Homo sapiens: one gene and its partner. The protein of the gene in region 2 purifies or fractionates together with the protein of the main gene of each other region. This does not show direct contact. Each region holds a gene or a part of one and is shown on either strand. Other genes may lie near its edges.

Region 1 (3,828 bases), about 110 Mb from region 2:
CTCCTAGAGGGAAGAAATAGCAGATAAACAATATTGTTCCTTCTGACCTTCACAATTTACTTAGAAGAAAGTAAAAGCTTTTTATATTAGCTACCAACACACAATTTATATTTTAGACCTTACAATGTAATACTTACTTGTTAGGAAAGAAACACAGCAGAGAAAAAAAAATTAAACTGCAATTATGTTGTTAAACATATGCAAGTAGAATTAAAGTGTTGTATCACTTATTACATTTAAAAAATGGACCTAGGACATTTAAGTGTTACTTCACTCAAGTTAGGAAATACTTTTGGCAATTCTTTTGAAGGAAGAGAGAAATAATGAATTAGACACTGAGATGTATGATACTCTAACACCAGAAGTGGGTGGATTTGCGGTTTGGATTTGTGGGTGCTGAAGAATTCGGCCAGCAGTGGAGCCAAATACCTAGAGAGCTTGGTTACTTCTCTTACTAAGAAATGGCCTCCAGAGTGGCTACATTTCCCAGAATCATTCTAGACCACAGATGTCTTCTCAGATCCTCCCTGGAATGAGTATTTGTTCTTAGAGTTATACGACAGTCAAATCGGTCTTCAAGATCGTTTTAATGATATTTATAAGATCATCTAGGATTTTGGGTCTGTTTTCGAATTTTTAATCTCTTTTAAGGGTCTGTTTTTAAATTTTTAATCTCTTCTAATATAATTTATTTACAAAGCTCTTTTGGTCTCACAGGAAAAAGGACCAAAGGTGGAAAAAAAAGTAGTGACCTATAATGCCCTGGGATCAGGACATTAGACTGAAGATGACTCAGTCCTGGCCTCACGTTAGAATCAAATCCTCTATAATTTGAAATGGGAAATAAAAATGCCCTTAGGTGTGAGATGACCTTGATAGGCTATTATGCTAAATAATCTGGAGAGAAGGAAAACATACCATCTGATTTGAAAGGTTTTAAGTCTTAATGAATGGATAGTTGACACGGTTATAAATGCAAATACTAGACACATATTGTCCCTTAATGTTTTTCTCATATTTCCTGATGTATTATCGCTGTCTCAGCATGCAGAGGTTTACTAAAGAAGCTAAAGCTGTTTAAATTAGAGCTAGAAATAAGGACTATCAATAACTATCTTCTATATTAAAATGAGAATTATATTTTCCATATAGCCTGTGGTAACCTGAGTGAGGTACTAATCTAAAATATATATTAGCTTGACATTCCTATCAGTAGAAGTTCTAAAGGGGAAAACCATTCATGAATAATTAATGAATTTCAATTGCTTCAATTTATCATGATTTGTTCAAGGATGTCTAAATGAGTCTATTTTAAATGATGGATTATCATTTTCAGAAACATATTTTAATAAAACTTCAGTGCTAGAATGGCTTCAAGCAAAAGGTTCTATTGAATTGCATACTGACATTATTTTGGTAACACATAGCAAGATCTACAAAAATGTTGAAACTCTCAACCCAGTTATCCCACTTGTAATTTAAACCTTAATAATAATTTGTAAGCAAAAAGCAAAGCTGACTACCTAACAATACTTCTCTGTATTATTATTTACAATGGTAAAAAATGGGAAATAGCCTATATGTTCAGTTATAGGGAGCTGTATATTAAATAAGCATTAAAAATTTCAAAGACAAAGATCACGTAGGTACATGGAAAGGTACTTATGATAAAATGTTATGTGAGATTGTGAAGAAACTGAAATAATAATATATATTTCCAATTCCTTAAACATATAAAGTATAATTGACAGATTTATACATTGGTATAACTATGCCATACTTTCAAATGGCATTAATTGGATTTCATCAGTAACAAAAGGACTATCACGTAAATATGCACTTGACGAATTATTTGTTGATATATCTATTTCAGAATAATGCCCATTCCATTCTAGTATAACTTACATTAAGTGAAAACTGAGTTTTTCAACAACTTATGAAATACTACTGAACTCAAGGTTGAATACAAAGTATTTTTCAAAAGTATTAATTTGGTTTTGAAGCAGCTACTTTAGCAGATCTCAATGTTTTTTATAAGTCTTCTAGATTGAGAAAGACAATTTTAAGTTTTAAAATTAAATGTTTTTATTTGTGTCATAAATTCAAAATGACATTAAATAGTTGTAATCATACAACCAGTCTTAAGACTTTTTTAGAGGTTACATGACTTGCTCCAGGTCATGTTCAGTGGCAGGCAGAATGAGAAAACAGGTTTCCAGATTCATGGATCCTGGAGAGGACTCCTCATTTTTTACCACTTGTATTCGTGCAGGATCAGTGAACATCCCCAGTCCACGCACCATTCACTGATTGAACTCACTGGCGTGGCATTATGCTTTACATTTTAAATCCATATTATAATATACACAACTATCATGTTACCAAACGCTTGCTAGCATTGTGACCTTTCCCCCTTTGGAATAGTTTTTAGGCAACTGAAATTACGGAGGGATTTATTTAAATTGAAGATTGAATTTTGCTATACATTTTCATTTGGTTCCCATAGCAACAATTCAAATCAGACAAGCTGCCTCTAAATTACTTATTGTTATTAGAATTCAATTTCATGTCTCTGTTAAAACTGAATAATGTTAAATAATGGCCTTGAGAAAAAAAATCTAACACAACTAATTGGCTATGAAAATAGCTTTAAAAACATCCAGCTAATTTAAATTTAATTTCTGTGTAAGCCTTAAAGCAGCAATCATGCCTCTACTGTAAACAACAGGAGTGACCTAAATGCATACAAATGTTTTCACCTGAATAAAACACCTTCCTAGAAAAAAGATGATTATTCAAATTCTAAACTGATTTTGAAGAAAAAAATCCAACTTTATTTATATTCATCTCATTCAAAAAAGTAGTTGAAACTGCAGGTGTATGGTTAAAATGAGAATCTATAAAGAGTGATAAAGACCGAGGGAAAAAAACATTTCAATGGACTTAATTTTTAAAATGTCAACATAATAGCATGCTAGGGCTATATATTATCATCCTGTTGTACAATCTCTTTATTTTTTCAGTTGAGACTCTGTGACTATCATAAAAAATTCCTGAGAAATGATTACACCACAGGGAGGAAAACCAGTCATTAAAGGCTGTGGTTTTGTGAGTGCTTTTGTTCCCTCCCATAATTTTCTATTGTTTTGGATAGAGGAAATCTATATAATGATGATGACAACAATGGAATGAGACTCACTGACTGGATATATGACATGCCAATCAATGTTCTGAGTGTTAAAATTCCATTAACTCATCTAATCCTCACACCAAGCTCATGAAGTAGACAGAATTGATCTTGCCAATAGTTTGTAAATACCTATTCTTACAATTTTTCCAAATCTCTATTTCTCTAATGAAAGATTCCTAAAGCACTCTCAATCTCTTCATATCCCAACTCAGTGGAACGACGGAGGAGAGGGTAGGCAAAATAACATTTCTTAAATGTTGATAAAATTGGTAATATCCATAACTGTACATATGTATGTGAATATTCACATTTTTTCTTCTCTTAGAAACTGTATTGCCCTAAACTGAAGCATTTAAAGCAACACTCTTCAGTCATTGCCCAGGTGTGAAGAACTAACTGCTACAGTGTGGCAACATTCCTCAAAAACCCATAACACCCTCCCTTGCCTGCACCCCTCTACTGTTAAGACCACAGAGGGTGGTCCTAACACTATGCTCTCAACATGCCCTTATTTTCTTACTATCCTAGGTCAATCCATTTTTTAACTTTTAAGTTCAGGGGTACATGTGAAGGTTTGTCATACAGGTACACTTGTATCATGGGGGTTTGTTGTACAGATTATTTCGTTTTATCATCCT
Region 2 (3,828 bases):
GAGAGGCTGCTTTGGACAAAAATTTTCCGTAGGGTAAACAGTTCTGGTTCCAAATTTTCTTTATTGTTTCTTTTGTTCCAAGATTCTGAGTTACAAAAAGCAATTTTACAGATACCTGATACTGTCTTCAGCATATTAGATAGTTCCTCTTAAATAAAACTTGCATTTTAAAATGGACAGAAAAGAGTTTGACCCTCTTAATCTCTTAAATCCAAGCTCTCCTCAACACTATGCAGGTTATTGGAGGCTATGCTGGTCAGGTTTTACTGCCCAGGGACTTAGAGGGGCATCTCCATTTATCAGTGGCTTATCTAACTTTTAGAGTCCTTGATCAATTACACAGTGCTCATGGAAATGCAAATGAGCATGATCAATCAGTGTTATTGAAAAGCACTTTTGTAAGATGTATCAAAAACCTTTTAAATGTTTATATCTTATGCTCTAGTAATTTCACTTTAAAAATCTTTCTTCTTGAGGTACAATCAGAGGTGTGGTCACAGATATTGTCTAGACACTATCATAAGAGTACCAGCTCTGGGTTTCAATGCCAGCCCATCCACTTTTTTTTTTTCTTTTTTCCTCACTATGTCTTATGGTGCTAAGCTGCCACTTTCTAATTGTGCAATCTGGAACAAAATATGTAGCCAACTGTCCTGTGCCTCGTTTCCCTCTTCTGTTAAATGGTAATAATAGTAGGTTTGTTACAAAGATTAAATTCGTTAAATAGTAATAATAGTAGGATTTGCCAGGCACAGTGGTTCACACCTGTAATCCCAGCACTTTGGGAGGCCGAGGCGGGTGGATCACCTGAGGTCAGGAGTTCAAGACCAGCTGGCTAACATGGTGAAACCCGTCTCTACTAAAAATACAAAAGTCAGCCAGCCATGGTGGCATGCACCTGTAATCCCAGCTACTTGGAAGGCTGAGGCAGGAGAATTGCTTGAACTCGGGAGGCAGAGGTTGCAGTGAGCCAAAATCGTGCCACTGCACTCCAGCCTGGGCGACAGAGCGAGACTCTGTCTCAAAAAATAAATAAATAAGTAAAAAATAATAGTGGGATTGCTACAAAGATTAAATTAATTAAGATGCATAAAGAACTTGAAACAGAGCCCATCACTTTGTTAGCGATTCGACAAATGTTAACTATCATTATAAGCTATTATTGCAAAAACATTCATTGCTGTATTATTTGTGATAGAAAAAAATTGAAACAAGTTAAATGAACAGAAATAGAAGCATGAAGACATATTTTTGCACATTCATGCAAAAGAATATAATGTACCCTGGAGGCATCACATAATGGTTAAAAACACAGGCTCTGGAAACTGAATGCTGGCCTGCCCCTGACCAGCTGTGCGGCTTGGGACAATTTTCTCAACAATCTGAGCCTCAGTTTCCTCACCTGAAAATGGAGAAGAACAGTAATAGTGGGCTGACTGGCTCATACACATAAAGCACTTAGAACAGTTCCTGGCACACAGTCATTGCTTCATCAGTTAGTCTCTCCACTTACAGTCAAGTTGGTAGCCTGGCAGACTGGTGATATCTCATGCACACAAAGCTTCCCAGGCAGTAGCTGTGAAAGTACATGCCCTGGTAGGAGATGAACTGAACAAAGCCTAAATTTCCCTTTGTATGAATAGACAAAATGACTGATGCAAGCCCAGGCCTGGAGGCTACGTGCACAACCACCATGCAAAGGAACTGGAAAGAGTTGTTTCACTGCAGTACCAGAACAGACTGCTTTGATTAAGAGAAAAAAGAAAAGGGAATAAAGAAGACAGGCCCCCAAACAAAACCACCCACCAAAGCCACAAACAAGACTTGGCAAGAGAAAGGAGCTGAAAAGGCTTTCCTAAATCTCCAGTCTGCATCCACCTCTTTTCTTTTTCTTTCTTTTTCTTTTTTTCCTAGAGACAGAGTCTCACTTCGTTGCCCAGGCTGGACTGCAGTGGTGCAATCACAGCTCACTGCCTCGAACTCTCAGGCTCAAGCAATTCTCTCTCCTCAGCCTCCTGAATAGCTGGGACCACAGGCATACACCACCACGAGTGCAGCTTTCTTACATGGAAATATTGCGTAATGGTGAAGTCTGGGCTTTTAGTGTACTCATCATCTGAGTAATGTACATTATATCCAATAGGCAATATTTCATCCTTTATCCCCTTCCATCTTCCCACCTTTTGGAGCCTCCAATGCCTATTATTCCACTCTCTATGTCCACATATACCCACTGTGTACCTCCCACTTATAACTGAGAACATGCAGTTTTTGGCTTTCTGTTTCTGACTCATTTCACTTAGGATAATGGCCTCCAGGTTCATCCATGCTGCTGCCAAAGGCATGATTTCATTCTTTTTATGGCTGAGTAGTATTCCATGGTGTATATGTACCACACTTTAATCATCATCTGTTGACAGACACTTAGCTTGATGACTTTGCTAAAGGACAGCTTTATTTCTCATAAGGGTTGAAGCCTGCAGAGAGGCCATTCTGACAGGCTGGGAAATGTAGCCTACCGCCAGAAGCTAGAAGCAAGCACTTCCTCCTCACTGAGTTTTTGAAAGACTAAGGGAAAGAGAATAGAGAAGGGATATTTCCATCTACCGGGGAAAAGATGTGCAGTAACAAACCATCTTGGGAGACAGCCTTCTCACAGATTTAGAAAAGTATATTTAAATTTTGATGAAACTTTTCAAGTATTAAAGTTTGAGTTACAAGCACAAGAGAGGATAAAACAAATCCAAGCAGAGATTCAAATTGTCATATAAGAATTTGTAGGCTGGGTGAGGTGGTTCATGCCTGTAATCCCGCACTTTGGGAGGCCCAGGTGGGCAGAGTATTTGGGCCCAGGAGTTCAGAGACTAGCCCAGGCAACATGGTAAAATCCCATATCTACAAAAAAATAAAAAATAATTAGCCAGGCATGGTGGTGCATGCCTGTAGTCCCAGGTACTTGGGAGGCTAAGGTGGGAGAATCACCTGTCTGGGAGGTGAAGGCTGCAGTGAGCCATGATTGCACCACTGCACTCCAACCTGGGCAACAGTGTGCAACCCTGTCTCAAAAAAAAAAAAAAAAAGAAAAAGAAAAAACAAAAAAGCAAGCAGGCAAGCAAAAACAAACAAACAAATGAACTAAGATCTGCTCCCATGTTACCCCACCTTGCTCCTAAAGGTTGGATGTAGTTTCTTTTATCAAGGAGCAGGTTTACAACCAGCCTTGGAAGCCTGGAAGGTATTGAGATGTTTCTCTGACCCAGTAACCCCAATTCCTAGAAAGGACAGGGATCAGCAGTCACTACACTCTTCTTCCACCCAGCCCTGTCCAGAGCTGACCTCAGGTTACCTCACTGTCAGCAGCACCCCCTTCCTCAAGGACCCTGCCCCCAAAACCACACCTGGAAGCTTGAGACACCACCAGGTCGGTGTGCAGATGGCCGCTATGGATTCCTAGTGAGCATGGCTTGTGAGAAAAAAAGGCAGCCTCATATTGGAAGCCTGTGTTTCCTGAATGCCCCTGGACAGTGATGAGGAGGGGTGGGTAGGCTGCCATTGCCCCATCCCCTGTCTCCTCCCAGCCCTCCAGTGACAGCTCAGACAATGGTGCCCTGCATGTCTGGGTTTACTGCATGTGTTGAGTGTGGGAAGAGGGCTGCTTTTTTCAGATCTTGTCACTATCCTTCCTTGTCACAGTTCCAACACGGCTTCTGGGGCTTCTAGGGTCACTGCTGCCTTATGGGGTCTTTTCATTTTCTTTTTGTAATGGCCAGCATTAATATTTATGCTGTGCCTCCAGTATGTCCAGAACACACAGAGTGTCCAGGAAAC

The links.
Region 1: the proteins of TRIM2 (region 2) and KLHL5 purify together in Homo sapiens (affinity purification with mass spectrometry; one large-scale study listed by BioGRID and IntAct). This does not show direct contact.

Annotation. Positions count from the first base shown.
Region 1 is NC_000004.12:39,082,690-39,086,517, reverse strand, and holds part of KLHL5 (kelch-like protein 5), read right to left. Parts: intron 4-3,828; coding exon 1-3.
Region 2 is NC_000004.12:153,210,741-153,214,568, reverse strand, and holds part of TRIM2 (tripartite motif-containing protein 2), read right to left. Parts: intron 1-3,828. UniProt on the Homo sapiens protein: UBE2D1-dependent E3 ubiquitin-protein ligase that mediates the ubiquitination of NEFL and of phosphorylated BCL2L11. Plays a neuroprotective function. May play a role in neuronal rapid ischemic tolerance.